Linked DNA regions of Homo sapiens. The protein of the gene in region 2 interacts with the protein of the main gene of each other region in a biochemical or structural test. Each region holds a gene or a part of one and is shown on either strand. Other genes may lie near its edges.

Evidence for each region.
Region 1: the proteins of MTA3 (region 2) and USP43 form a complex in vitro, tested with the Homo sapiens proteins (one study listed by BioGRID).

What each region holds. Positions count from the first base shown.
Region 1 is NC_000017.11:9,640,788-9,648,535, forward strand, and holds the start of USP43 (ubiquitin carboxyl-terminal hydrolase 43), read left to right. Parts: upstream 1-4,767; 5' UTR 4,768-4,845; coding exon 4,846-5,349; exon of another isoform or gene 5,350-5,930; intron 5,931-6,139; exon of another isoform or gene 6,140-6,270; intron 6,271-6,716; exon of another isoform or gene 6,717-7,748. Other genes in the region: CFAP52 (cilia- and flagella-associated protein 52), read left to right, coding at 4,459-4,767. UniProt on the Homo sapiens protein: May recognize and hydrolyze the peptide bond at the C-terminal Gly of ubiquitin. Involved in the processing of poly-ubiquitin precursors as well as that of ubiquitinated proteins.
Region 2 is NC_000002.12:42,704,613-42,711,631, reverse strand, and holds part of MTA3 (metastasis-associated protein MTA3), read right to left. Parts: intron 3,730-7,019; coding exon 3,578-3,729; intron 2,759-3,577; coding exon 2,536-2,758; coding exon of another isoform or gene 2,513-2,535; exon of another isoform or gene 2,088-2,512; intron 1-2,087. UniProt on the Homo sapiens protein: Acts as a component of the histone deacetylase NuRD complex which participates in the remodeling of chromatin.

The DNA.
Region 1 (7,748 bases), on a different chromosome or scaffold from region 2:
TGTGTGCCACCACATCCAGCTAATTTTTGTATTTTTAGTACAGACAGGGTTTCACCATATTGCCCAGGCTGGTCTCGCATTCCTGACCTCAAGCAACGGGCCCAACTCGGCTTCCCAAAGTGCTGGGATTATAGGTGTGAGCCGCTGCACCCAGCTGGCCGTATCGCATTTTCTTTATGCAGTCTATCATTGATGGGCATTTAGGTTGATTCCCTGTCTTTGCTATCATAAACAGAAGCATTCTTTCCTAAGAAGGAAATTTAAATCTTGAATAGATTGTGCATTCACAAAGTTTAAGGTACAAAGGCAGTATATTCAGGAAAAAAATCACCCTCCTTTAGGCACCTGTCTCTCCATCCCTAAGGTAGTTCTGCTCCCCAACAGGGAACCAAGGTTACCAGTTCCTCTTTAAACTCTACCCTGTGGAATATTTCAGTGCTTTGGAGCAGAAGGGAAAGTTGGGAATAAGGGTGGTGTGAGGAAGAGGGAGGGCGCAGTCCCAGTGGGAGGGTGCCTGTACAGCCCAGTCTCTAGAACTCTGGGGAGTGGGGAGTGCTCATCCCCCAGTGAGAAGGAAGAAAATGCTTTTCCTCCCTCCAGGCCTGAAGCTTAGCTGTGGATGCAGAGGCTGTTCTTTCTTTTACAGCTTGCTTCAGGCTGAATCTTCTTAGTCTTATCAAAAGCCCTTTCTGTCTTAATCCAGGTTTATCAGCACATCAACATGTCTTTAAATAGAATGCAAATTTAAAACCAATACTAAAAATATTAAAATGGTTTTGCCACCCCCTGCTGTAGCCTATTTATAATTTCAGCCAGTATCATCCCGTGGTGTATTTTTGCTCCCTTCTATATAAAGTAGAGCCATCTTTTGTTAGCATGTGCATGGATGACTCTCCTGAGCTGAGTCCTGCTTAATGCTTCTTTCCTGAATTCCAGATTGCTTACTGGGAAGTATTTGATGGGACAGTAATCAGAGAATTGGAAGGTTCCCTGTCTGGGTCGATAAATGGCATGGATATCACACAGGAAGGGGTGCACTTTGTCACAGGTTAGTCCTGGGATAGGAAAAAGCCAAGCCTGGCTTATTTAGACGAGGACATGGAAGGAACTCCCAGGCTAGAGGCAATTGGAAAAGACAACAAAAGGGTCTCAAGGCAACTTGGTTAGAATCAGATTCCAACCAATACTGCAGCCAATGTGGCTGAGAAAGAAAAATCCAGAAGTCACATTTCAATGAGAGGAAACATTTGCACAAGAGCCTTAAGAGCACAAATAAAAGCCAAGACTTAGATTGCTAGGCTTGCTATTTTTGGTGGGCATTGATAATAGAAATGGGGCCTTTAAATGGCCTGGGCTGTCCAGCATACTTCTAAAGTCTTAAAAGCCAGTCTTTTAATTCCACTTTATTATTGCATGATGCGATGCCCTTCCCACCAAAACAAATGAATTAACCAATATTTCAAAGGGGCATTTACCACACAACATGCCGATTGGAACATCATTATCATTTCCTGCCAAGCTCTTTGATTCATCAGGATATTAACAAATAAATGCGGCCAGGCGTGGTGGCTCATGCCTGTAATCCTAGCACTTTGGGAGGCCAAGGCAGGTGGATCACCTGGGGTCAGGAGTTTGAGACCAGCCTGGCCAACATGGTGAAACCCTGTGTCTACTAAAAACACAAAAATTAGCCGGGCGTGGTGGTGCACGCCTATAATCCCAGCTACTTGGGAGGCTGAGACAGGAGAATTGCTTGAGCCTGGGAGGCGGAGGCTGCAGTGAGCTGAGATCATGCCACTCCACTCCAGCCTGAGTGACAGACAGTCCGTCTCAATAAATAAATAAGTAAAAAATAAATAAATGCATGAAATGAATTAAGTTTCACAAGTACATTGACTACAAAGCAGGTATCAAACTAGACACAGTGTGATCCCAATCATATATATGATGTATATGTATACCAGTATACTTATAGAGAAAAGACTGGAAGGAACTAAGCCAAGATATTACTAGTGGTTATTTCTGGGTAGTGGGATGAAATGTGATTTTACCTCTTTGTATTTCCCCCTCCTCTTCAAATTTACTGCAACAGATAGATTTTTATAATCAAGTAAAAGTGTTATTATAAAGACAGATACATGGGGACCATGTTGAAAATGATCCAGTTATTTGAAATCAGGGCTGTTTCTCTCTCTCCTATTGCAGCAATGCCATATACGTGTTTATCTTTTTCAGGTGGAAATGACCATCTGGTCAAAGTTTGGGATTATAATGAGGGTGAAGTGACTCACGTTGGGGTGGGACACAGTGGCAACATCACACGCATCCGCATAAGTCCAGGAAATCAATATATTGTTAGTGTAAGTGCCGATGGAGCCATTTTGCGATGGAAGTACCCATATACCTCCTGAAGCTGATGAGATGTCTCTGAGCCTTGGCGTTGCACGCAGTCCTGTTGAAGACTGAGTTTAGATAACTCCAACACTAGTCTTCATTTCTCACAGCTCTGTTTTTGTTCTTGAGTCAATTTTTCTCTTTTTCTTTATAGAATGCATTTTATATTCTTAAATTGCATATTAAAATTGAAGTATGTTCAAGAATAATTTGTGCAGACTCTAATTAGAACTTTTAACATTTTGAATAAATTCTTAGTTGTTGGTTTTCTGTTATAATTTGTTTTCTGCAACTCTGCAAAACCCACAGACCTTCCTCATGATCTGTGCACAGACAGCATTGCTATTATCCTCTAAAAATAAGGTGAGGTGAATTTCCTTCTTAATTGCCATTTCATTGGTCAAGCTATATGGGACTAGACTCAGATTTAAATCCAGATCTTGGGCAGGCTTCTTAAAAATTCTCTGAGCCACAATTTTCTCTTTTGTCAAGCAAGAGTAAGTTCCTGCTCAAAAGGTTATTGTGAGAATTAAGTGACTAATGTACTAAAGCATCGGCAGAATTCCTGACAGGGTAGAGAGAAATATGCATGCTTTCTCAAAGAAAATGTGTGGTGTTGGGGATCTCAGGACAATTACCAAAGAAAGATGAAATTACAGAGATGCTTTATTGGAGTTGGCCATTACATCTTTCTTCTGTGCTTTCCACCAGAAGGGTGATGAAATGGACCTTGTGTCCTTGTGTATTAATCACCCAGCCGGGTATCTTTTTCCAGAGAGGGGTAAATAATGGCATTTTCCAGAACGCAAGTCTCCGATTCACAGTACCGTCTGATGTTTTAAGCATGTTATTTATCCTTTAAGTAAGGCTGCTTTTTTGCATGAGGTAACTGCTGTAACCCGGTTTGAAAGATCAAGTTTTTTGTTTGTTTGTTTGTTTTTTGAGACGGAATTTAGCTCTTGTCGCAATTTAGCTCTTGTCGCCCGGCTGGAGTGCAATGGCGCGATCTCGGCTCACTGAATCAAGCGATTCTCCTGCCTCAGCCTCCTGAGTAGCTAGGATTACAGGCATGCGCCACCACGCCTGGCTAATTTTGTATTTTTAGTCGAGACGGGGTTTCACCATGTTGGCCAGGCTGGTCTTGAACTCCTGACCTCAGGTGATCCGCCCGTCTCGGCCTCCCAAGGTGCTGGGATTACAGGCGTGAGCCACCGCGCCCGGCCAGGATCAAGAATATTTAATAAATGATGATCACTTATTAAACAACAAGTAACATTTCAGAGCGTTAGAATACTGCATCTCACATGGTGCTGATCTCTTCCTGAGCTAGAAATTGACGAGAAAGTCATTTTGCAAGACCTTGCCTGATTAATTATAAACCTGACAGTTGCATGGGATAAAGTGAGGGGTGGGGGAGGGGCCCAGGGTTACCCAGGGAATCAAGGGCGGGGCAAGGCCAAACTAATTCTGATTGGGCAATCATTCAACAAGGATCGTGCGTTAAGGAGTGAACCAGAAACCGCGTAGGGGGCGCGCCTGAGAGCCTGAAAACTTCCTGGTTAGCAAATACTGAGGCTGGAAAGGGCCTGAACTTGGCAGTCCATAGATCCAGGTCGAGTTCCGGTTTCCCTGCTTACGGATCGGGCGGCCTCCCTACGTTGCGATAACCTCTCTGAGCCCCCTTCCTTGCCGATTAAAGCAAGGGTGATCAAGTCTTGCAAGTTTTTGGAAAATGATTCTAACCCAATCTGTGGTGTAAAAAAGCAAACCACAACCACTCGGGGGCTTTTTTCACAGGGCAACACGTGGCTCCCAGTTCAGGTCCCGGGTTGGCGGGTGCAGGCACAGACTCTGCCTCCCCCCAAGGGGCAGACGGTCTGGAAGGAGGTGGCGACACCTGTCCGCACACACCTGAGCCTGCGGAGGAACCAGCGGTGCACAAAAGCGCTCCCCACCCCCACACAGCGCCCAGCGCGCGCCTCTCACCACGCCCGAGGCTGTGCTCTGGAGATGCCTGCCTTGCCCTTTTCTTCCTGCAGTAGCCAGGCCTTTACCATTTACTAGGCGCTTTCAGAATGTTCATTTCTCCGTAATTTCCACTGCTTGAAGGCTGCTCGAGGAACAGGAGCAGCGGCGAAACCCAGGTCTGTCGGTTTACGAGGTAAGGAAGGGTGGGGAATCCGACCACGAAGACTCCCAGTCAGCGCAGCGGGGGCGGCACCAGGCAGGGGTAGGGGTGGCCCGGCGCTGCCCTGGAGGGGGCTGGTCGTGCCGCCGGATTCCCGCGCGGGGCGGGGCTGCCCCGCCCTTGGCTCCGCCTCCGCCCCGTCCCCGCACACCTGGCCCGCAGGTAGCCGGCACCAGGAGCCTTAGAGAAGCTGTAGGGCCTGCTGGCCGCTCGTCCGCCTCGCGCCCGGGGGCTCCGCGCCTGGAGCTGCGCCGGCGGCAGCCATGGACCTGGGCCCCGGGGACGCGGCAGGAGGGGGACCGCTCGCGCCCCGGCCCCGCCGCCGCCGCTCCCTGCGCCGCCTGTTCAGCCGCTTCCTGCTGGCGCTGGGCAGCCGCTCACGCCCCGGGGACTCACCGCCCCGGCCCCAGCCGGGACACTGTGATGGCGACGGTGAGGGGGGCTTCGCCTGCGCCCCGGGCCCAGTTCCAGCGGCCCCCGGGAGCCCCGGGGAGGAACGCCCGCCCGGACCCCAGCCCCAGCTCCAGCTCCCCGCCGGCGATGGGGCGCGGCCGCCGGGCGCTCAGGGCTTGAAGAACCACGGCAACACCTGTTTCATGAACGCGGTGGTGCAGTGTCTCAGCAACACCGACCTGCTGGCCGAGTTCCTGGCGCTGGGGCGCTACCGGGCGGCTCCGGGCCGCGCCGAGGTCACCGAGCAGCTGGCGGCGCTGGTGCGCGCGCTCTGGACTCGCGAATACACGCCCCAACTTTCCGCGGAGTTCAAGGTAGGCAGCGCTGCGCCGCCGACCGCCCTGTCCCCCTGGTTTCGCCTCTTGAAAAGTGTGTGCACGATCAGGAAAGGGTTTTCTTGGGGCCTTCTTTAAATGCCGTTGACCAGTTCAGCCCCGGATTACCGGCTTTGTTTTGAGTCGATGTGTTACGCTGTCGCTTGCTTATGTTTTCTTTGTAAATTAATTCTCCTAGGTATTTTGAGAGGGAGTGGGGTGAGCTGGCAGATTGAAGGGTAATCAGCGTTTTTGGATTCAACAAGCATTTGTTGAAGTATTGAAGGCTTGTGGGCCAGACAGTGTTCTAATGCCAGCTCTAGAGCTTCCAGTCTGGAATGATGTGGGGTAGGGAATGGGATGTTGAAGGCCAAGGCCTCAGAGGAAGGAGGTGATGCTTGCGTTGAGATCTGAATGATGAGAAGGATGCAGTCAGGGCAAGCTGTAGGACTAATCCAGGCAGGAGGAACAGCAAGTACAATTGCCATAGACCCGAAGGAGCTGAGTGCTGGAGACAGGGAAAGAAAAGCAGTGGCGTTGGAGCTTAGGAGGCAGATGAGTTTCGCCAGATCACGTAAGACCTAGGAGGCAACGGTAAAGAGTTTGGATTTTATTCTAAGCCCAGTGGAATCTGACAACCTACAGGCCAGGTACCGTGCTGAGTGCCCAGCAAAGGCAGTGAGCGTGCTATTTTGGAGATAGCATCCTTTTGTTTAAGGCGCATTCAATCCCCTACAATGTATGAGCACGGGCTTGCATTTTATTGTCTGCAAGATCACGGTCTACTTACTCGGGTTGCTGCCGGGTCGTGAGGCTTTGTAAATTGTTTGTATCACTTCACCCGGGATTAAAACGGGGTGTTTGTTTGGGGTCCCAGTTGGATTAAAGCGTTCCTGATAATTGATGCACATGGCTTGCTTCCTGCAAAAAAAAAAAAAAAAAAAAGAAAAAAAAGAAAAAAAAAGAAGAAGAAACCCGCAGCTCTGGGCAGAGAACTGAAGCTCCCTACAGACTAGTGATTGTTGTTCTTGGGGGAGGGGGAAACCTGTCAGTGTTCATTCCACAAGCATCACCGCTCTTGAGTTTCAGCCCGAGAAAGCAGTGTTTGCCATGTGACCCATGAGATGCCAACCCCCACCTTCCTCCCTCCTGCCTCCATTAGTGAAGCACTGTTCTGCAGCAGCCAGTGGGTCAAATGGTTGTCACTAAATGTCTCTTTTTGGTGACATTTGCTTTTTAAGAAAGAGGCAGTATAGTATAGTGGTTAAGAGCAAGGTCTCTGGAGTTTTGTGACCTTGAGCAAGTTACCAGATCTCTCTGTGCCGCAACTTTCTTCATCTTTAATATAGAACCATAATGGTACTTACCTCGTTATACGGTTGTTGTATTAAATGAGTTCTATGTAGAACACAGTGCCAGCCCCACAGGAAATGTTCATTATTCTATCACGACACCTTCTCACCTGCAGAAACCTAGAGCAGGGAGGGAGGTAATCTTTATGTACATTTTCTCTTGCTAGATGCATTTCCATCCAGTTACCACAGCAATGGGAGAGGGCTGCAGTAGTTTGAAAACACTTCGAAATTGGCCGAGCGCGGTGGCTCACGCCTGTAATCCCAGCACTTTGGGAGGCCGAGGCGGGTGGATCACGAGGTCAGGAGAGCGAGACCATCCTGGCTAACACGGTGAAACCCCGTCTTTACTAAAAATCCAAAAAAAAAAAAAAAAAAAAAAATTAGCCGGACGTGGTGGCGGGCGCCTGTAGTCCCAGCTACTGGGGAGGCTGGGGCAGGAGAATGGCGTGAACCTGGGAGGCGGAGCTTGCAGTGAGCCGAGATTGCGCCACTGCACTCCAGCCTGGGCAACAGAGCGAGACTCCGTCTCAAAAAAGCAAAGCAAAACAAAACAAAAAACTCCGAAATTAGTAATCACCCTCAATGACTCACCAGAATTCCCTATCTCTCTCCCGCTGTCAAATCCCCAGGGCCTGGGAGCTCCCAGTAAGCCTCAGGGAATTGAAGGATAATCAAGTTTGTAATATGTTAATGAGGGAGATACAATCTGGAATTTCCTGGGATTTTTGGGTAGTCAGCTTTGGAGGGAGGAGTGGAGGATCCCAGAATCCAGGCTTTAAATATTATGGATTGAAATCTAGGTGAGCTCTTCTTATTTTACAGATGGGGAAACATTCGTTCAACAAATATTTATTGAATGTCCAGAGAGTAGACTAGGAATGCATGGAATGCATGATGAGTGATGAGTACAAACCCAGATTCTGGGGCTGCTCTCCAGGAGCTTATGGTCTAGAGGTAGAAATGGATGTTAATGAAATAATCACACAGGCACATGATTGGAACAGAAACATGTTAGAAAGGACAAATACAAGGTGCTATGACAGT
Region 2 (7,019 bases):
CATAATCAATTAGATGTTAGGAAAAGTTCATTGCTTGTCTGAAAAATAAAAAAGAGTAGACGGCTGCTGAAACACTGTCATTTTAAATCTCAAGGTAAAATTATTTAAGAATCTGATTATGTACAACTCAATGACCAGTGAAGCTAAATACAAAACAAAATAATACATGCTCTCTGAATTTCATCCAGATAGACGACTGCTCTTTTATGATTACTATAATCTATATGCTTATAGAAATAAAATACAGGTAACTTAATTATGATCCCTTTTAGCAGCATGGCCCGTCAATTGAGAAAAAAATTAGAACGAGATAAAAGAAAAATATACTTCATTGAAGAATAATCAAAACAAAGATAATGTGCAAATTAACTGAAAATTAACACACAAGCCCTGGGGAAACAGAGTTTCCTCAGCAGCCAACTGAGTTGCTGATGGTTTCTCTTCTAGTCCTAGGACAAAGATGATACTGGATCCCCACCAATCTTAATGGAAAAGTCTCATTCATTTTCATTCTTAAATGTTTTACTTTTTAATTTTTATTTATTTATTTATTTTTTAATGCGGAGTCTGTGTTGCCCAGGCTGGAGTGCGGTGGCATGATCTCAGCTCACTGCAACCTCTGCCTCCCAGGTTCAAGTGATTCTCTTGCCTCAGCCTTCCAAGCAGCTGGGATTACAGGCGTGTGCCACCATGCCTGGCTAATTTTTGAATTTTTAGTAGAGATGAGGCTTCACCATGTTGGCCAGGCTAGTCTCTAACTCCTGACCTCAGGTGATCTGCCCACTTCGGCCTCCCAAAGTGCTAGGATTACAGGCGTAAGCCACCGTGACTGGTCTTCACCATTTTATTTAAAAAATTACATGAAAATGTGTTTTAAATGAGCTGAACAATTTAGACTATAAATATTTCTAATTCCCAAAATGGGAAAGTGGTAACGTAAGTCCATGAGGTCTCAAATGCTAGCACAAAACCTAAATATAAGCCTAAACTCTCAAATATACATGAATCTAATATAGTAATCCCCCTTCTGTGGGACTCTGACATTGCTACCACTTTCTTTTTTTTTTTTTTTTTTTTTTTTTGAGATGAAGTTTCGCTCATTGCCCAGGCTGGAGCGCAATGGCGCAATCTCAGCTCACTGCAACCTCTGCCTCCCGGTTTAAAGCAATTCTCCTGCCTTGGCCTCCTGAGTAGCTGGGATTACAGGCGCCTGCCACCACGCCTGGCTAATTTTTGTATATTTAGTAGAGACAGTTTCACCATGTTGACCAGGCTGGTCTCGAACTCCTGACCTCAGGTGATCCACCCACCTCGGCCTCCCAAAGTACTGGGATTACAAGCATGAGCCACCGCGCCCAGCCCTCAACTCCCTTTACAAAGCATTTTTCTTCTTATAGAGCTGCTACTTAAGTTTTAAAGCCTTTCAACTATTCTGCTAAAAATTATCTTTAGGAACAAAAAATGTTTTTTTCAGTCATCATTCCTTTTATTGATATCCTCTTTAAATCAAAGGGGAACATTTCATAGTAAGAGATTTCTTAGAATGGCTTTAGGATTTCCTATCTGTTAGGCCAGACAGCAAGTTTTGTCACCCCTTAAGGAACAAAAGCTGCACGGCTCTAACATGCTAGCCTGGAATGTGACTCCAGAGCTAACATATTAATTATACACATATTGTCAGAGACATGGTAATGACAAAACGATCCACAATTCATGGACACATATGATCTCTGTGCTAACAAAAATAAAAATAAAAAAGATAAGCAAGACCAAATGTGTTGAAAATAAGAGTAGTAAGTCATGTAAATGTTATGTGGTGATATATATGATACATGATCATGAAATGGAAACCAAACTGGACAAACAGGCTGCTCAACCATATGTTTAGATGCTAGCTTATGAAAATGCAATGTGTAATTTCAGAAAACTCACCCAAAAATGAGTTTAAAATTTACTTGTAATTTGCTAGACCTTCTAATAAATATAGTATTTGTTATGAATCAAGGGTGAATTTCCATAATGTTGTATGACAATTGTAAAAGGTTCATGAGAAAAACGAGAGGTTTACAAAGACATACAGTCTCTAATTAGTGTAAATTGGCAAATTTTATTTAAACCTAATGAATCCATGTAAGACTGGACTGTACTGTCTCGATTATGGAGTCTCATTATAACAGCATCCTTAGGGGTTACATTGTGGCACTACCTAAAAGGTAAAAGTGCTTCAATAAGGGCTCTGCAGGCAATTCCATCACAAAACCCCATGGAATAGGATCACCTCCCACCAATCTTTTGCTAAGCACTACTCTCTGGTAAAGAGTACAGAAGTTTCAATGTTTTGATTTTTTTTTTCCAGGTTGGCATGATACAAATGGCAGCACACAAAAACAATGTTAAAAAATAAACCAAATAAAAGGCTGTACACAAGAACTTATGTTTATTGCAAACAAACAAACAAAAAAAAAAGGAAAGAGAGGAAAAGAGAAAATGGTCAGAAGCACAACATATAAGGTTAAGAATTTAAAAGCATCTTACATTCTGCCCTAATGGCAGCATAATTAATAGCAACAAACGGCCGTCTTGCTGCCTGCCGCAGCCGGAGGGTATTTTTGCAGACCTGACGAGCAAATTTTGTGAAATATGTAGTATGAAGGAAGAAAGCTTGGCGGGTCTTCACTGCAGACTTTGGACTCCCAGTGTTTCGGACTGGCATTCCCTGCATGGCCTGGCGGGACACGTGACTTCTAACACGAGGGTCCTGCAAAATCAGAAAACAACAAACACTCAAGGAAGTGAACTTGCCCAAACACGTTACTGTTTGCATCATGCTCAAAAGAAAAGTGCAACTTTTAAATCTTTCATGAAGCATCTATAACGTCACTTGGTGCACTACCTCTAAAAGAGAGAATTAAAGTGTGCACTTTTGGGAAAGAGGTGGGGAGTAGAGAAGGGAACTGTGGAGAATACTGTACTGCTATACAGGAATCCAAAATCACATTCACAGTAAGTGGTATGAAACTGCCAAGGGGGTTAACTACACTTTTTTTTAAATTAAGGAGTCCTGAAAGCCCGTCAGCACTGAAAAAGGGTAGTCGCCCACTGGTAAACACAGGCGTTTGGCATCTTCAGCCTATGAGGATTTTACCAAAATCACATTTAAACTGTTGTTCACCTCAAGATTAAGTCCATACTTCTTGTCCCTCCAAAACAGCCACGGGGAGAAAAAATGCTTAATTTGCATTTATGACTTTATGTAGTAAGACACGCCTTCAACAGAATGTAAAGGTTACGAACTGTTTTCAAAAGCAATTAAACATTTAATTTGTAAGCTCTCTACTTATGCTAACATCTCCCACACTCATTGTTTTTTTGTCTGAGACCATTATTCTGAATACCTGATAAAATTTAATTTCTCTCTGCTTCTCTCCACACCTACCCTGAATATTGTAGTGCTACGTTTAGCTATAAAGGTAGCTTTCTTCATTTTTTAATTATCCTATACTGTACTTCTGTTTCCAAGGAATAATCAACCCATTTAAAAACATGCCATTTTTCAACACTAAAAAGACTACTGTACCTCTGTAGTTGGGCTAGGAGATAACTTCTCTTCTTCTGACTGGGTGGGCATTTTCAAGCCTCCATATTTTTTCCAATAAAGCCAACAAATTGCACATAATCTACACTGCATATTAGGTGGGCCCCAAGAATACCACTGGTGAGACTGTGTAGCTAAAGCAGAAGAAAAATAAGAAAAAACGAAAAATGCTATTTAATTTGTAACATCAACACAAAATAATCAAACATTTTAAAAATACTTGTCATGCTTAGTTTACAATGTTATTGTTCCCAGCTTACAAGCCAAACATAATAGTATATTTGTTTTTTTAATACTCAGAATTCATTAAACCAACTTATTTCCATTATTATATAAAGTGCTTGTGGCCCTGTTAAAGCTATTCAGTGAAGCATCCTGTATTATGCATTGTGCTGCTGAGGGAGTTTTTGTTTTGTTGATTAAAAATACTCTATTGTGTATGTTTCTGGAAATAGGTTCTCAAAAAGATGGTAGTATTTAAAAAATCTGGGGCCGGACATGGTGGCTCACGCCTGTAATCCCAGCACTTTGGGAGGTTGAGGCAGGCGGACCATGAGGTCAGGAGATCAAGACCATCCTGGCTAACACGGTGAAACCCCGTCTCTACTGAAAACACACAAAAAAAATTAGCCAGGCATGGTGGCACGCACCTGTAGTCCTAGCTACTCGGTAGGCTGAGGCAGTAGAATTGCTTGAATGTGGGAGGCAGAGGTTACAGTGAGCTGAGATCACGCCACTGCACTCCAGCCTGGGCGACAGAGTGAGGCTCCATCTCAAAAGAAAAAAAAAAAAAATCTAAATCCACGTTTCCAAACCCAGGGTTCAGACACCACTCCAAGGATTATTTAAGGTACTCAGGGAGGTCTCATTGATAAAGTCAGGAATCTAATAAAAACAGGTATCTGTCAGCCAGGTGTGGTGGTGAACCCCTGTAGTCCCAGCGACTACAGAGACTGAGGCAGCAGGACTGCTTGAGCCTGGGAGGTTGAGGCCACTGTGATTGCACCACTGCATTCCAGCCTGGGTTACAGAGGGAAGCGGGGAGGAGGAGGGGGCTGGGGAGGGGAAGAGGGAGGGAGTAGGGGAGGAGAGAAGAAACAAACAGGTATCTGTTTTGCACTCCTTTATTTTAATCAATAAGTAAAATCCTTATTTTAAAATCTCCATTTACAGACAGAATCCCTTTCAAGACTCTAAATCCATATGAAGTGAGCATGGGCAGCTGACATCACAGCATGCTTGAGGCCTAAAACTCAGATGATTTAACAGCTAGCTGAACACTGTAAGCTTGTGTTAGTTTTTGTTTTGTAGTTTAAATTACTGACATGTGACATTTAAAATACATGTGTGATAGATCTGAAGTTTAAGAGAAAACATTGAGGTTGAGACATAAGTTAATTGGGTGCATAAAAAATTGTAATTCTGTAAGTTTGCCTTAAAATATTATTTCTCTGACCTGTAAGTTACCTTCAAATGTTCAAACAGCACATGAAGATATCAACTAACACTTCACAAACCAATGTGAAAAAGAGAAAATACAGAGACCATTATATTCATGTTTATCGGGAATAACACTGTACACCCATCATGTATTATTTTTGGAGGATTATTATTTTAGGCTTTTATTTGTGTAAATATTTTAGGCCTATTTTAGGCTTTCATTTATACAAATAACTATTTTATACAAATGAAAGCCTAAAAGCCTTTCCTCCTATAATTTAGAACTAATAAGTCATTTTTTAAATTTTTTATTTTATTATTATTATACCTTAAGTTTTAGGGTACATGTGCACAATGTGCAGGTTAGTTACATATGTATACATGTGCCATGCTGGGGTGCTGCACCCATTAACTCGTCATTTAGCATTAGGTATATCTCCTAAAGCTATCCCTCCCTGCTCCCCCCACCCCACAGCAGTCCCCAGATGTGATGTTCCCCTTCAAAATCTTAAACATTAAGCTATGAATCTATTTTGAATTCTAAATATAAAATTTCACTTAAAACATACATTTTACGTAAACTAATCATGCAAATCATTTTAATAATTGTCAATAAATGCCTTTCTCCTTAAATAACTCAAATTCAATTGGAAAGTAGGTATCATTTAATAAATAGAAAACATCAAGTTCTATCTCTCTGTAAGGATAAATCTTATATTAAGATAACATTTTATCATGGAGATTAGTAATACATGAGTCTAAAGTAAATATTATAAAATAAAAATAGCTTATTCATCATGCACACATAAAAATAACAGAATAATCATTTAAGGGGATATACGTGAGTGTGAAAGGGGTTTGCAAGTTAATTTTTTTTTTGGGGGCGGGGGGGAGACGATGTTTCACTCTGTCACCCAGGTTGGAGTGCAATGGTGCAATCTCAGCTCACTGCAACCTCTGCCTCCTGGGTTCAAGCTATTCTCCTGCCTCAGCCTCCTGAGTAGCTGGGATTACAGGTGCATGCCACCATGCCTGGCTAATTTTTGGTATTTTTAGTAGAGACGGGGTTTCACCATGTTGGCCAGGCTGGTCTCGAACTCCTGACCTCAGGTGATTCACCCGCCTCAGCCTCCCAAAGTGCTGGGATTACAGGCATGAGCCACAGCACCCTGCCTGCAAGTTAAAATCAAGACAGGTTAAGCCACTACCACTTGTCTGCAGGATTCTTTTCATTTTCATTTGAATATACATGAACTACAAAATCCAAGAATTCCCAATTCAAGGTATTTATGATGCTATCCATGTAAAAGCCTGACCTAAAAAATCTTAATTTTCCACAAATTGTTTCCCTTTGTGCTCCCATGCTGCAAAAAAATGGTTAAACACATCCCCATGTACCATTTCTACAAATTCAGCAACTTGGCTCACACCTTCCTTGGGATCAATCGACGTAATCGTACTCACAGCCGTCCCTCATTCCTATATCCTTCCTGAAGGCAGTAGGCTACATGTACTCTCAAAGAGCTACTAAGAACCCAAAATGGGGCACCAAGTAGGTTTTCAATAAACATTCGTTTCCTTCCCTCTCCCATCCCAGGCTACCTTAACTGGAAGGAAACATAGATGATAATATCACCAATGCCCCATTAAGATATTGTATCCTTGCTTGAGATTTAAAATAAACACACAAAGTCTATCAACTACCTAACGGTTCACTTCACCGACCCCATTTAACACCCTGGGCAAATAAAATACTGCCACCATAGATAAATACAGTGGGATCCTGAGGCCAAAAGCAAGTATCATAGAAGAGCATTTCCCAAACTGGTGCACTGAGGGAACATGGTCTGAGGATTATATACAGCAGCTTATCCACACAGAGGCCTTTCCTACAGAATTACTTGGAGCTTTAATTTGTCAAAGTATACTGAGAAACTCCAAAGGGGAATTTGGTATGCATCATGGGAACACAGTTTCTGCAAAG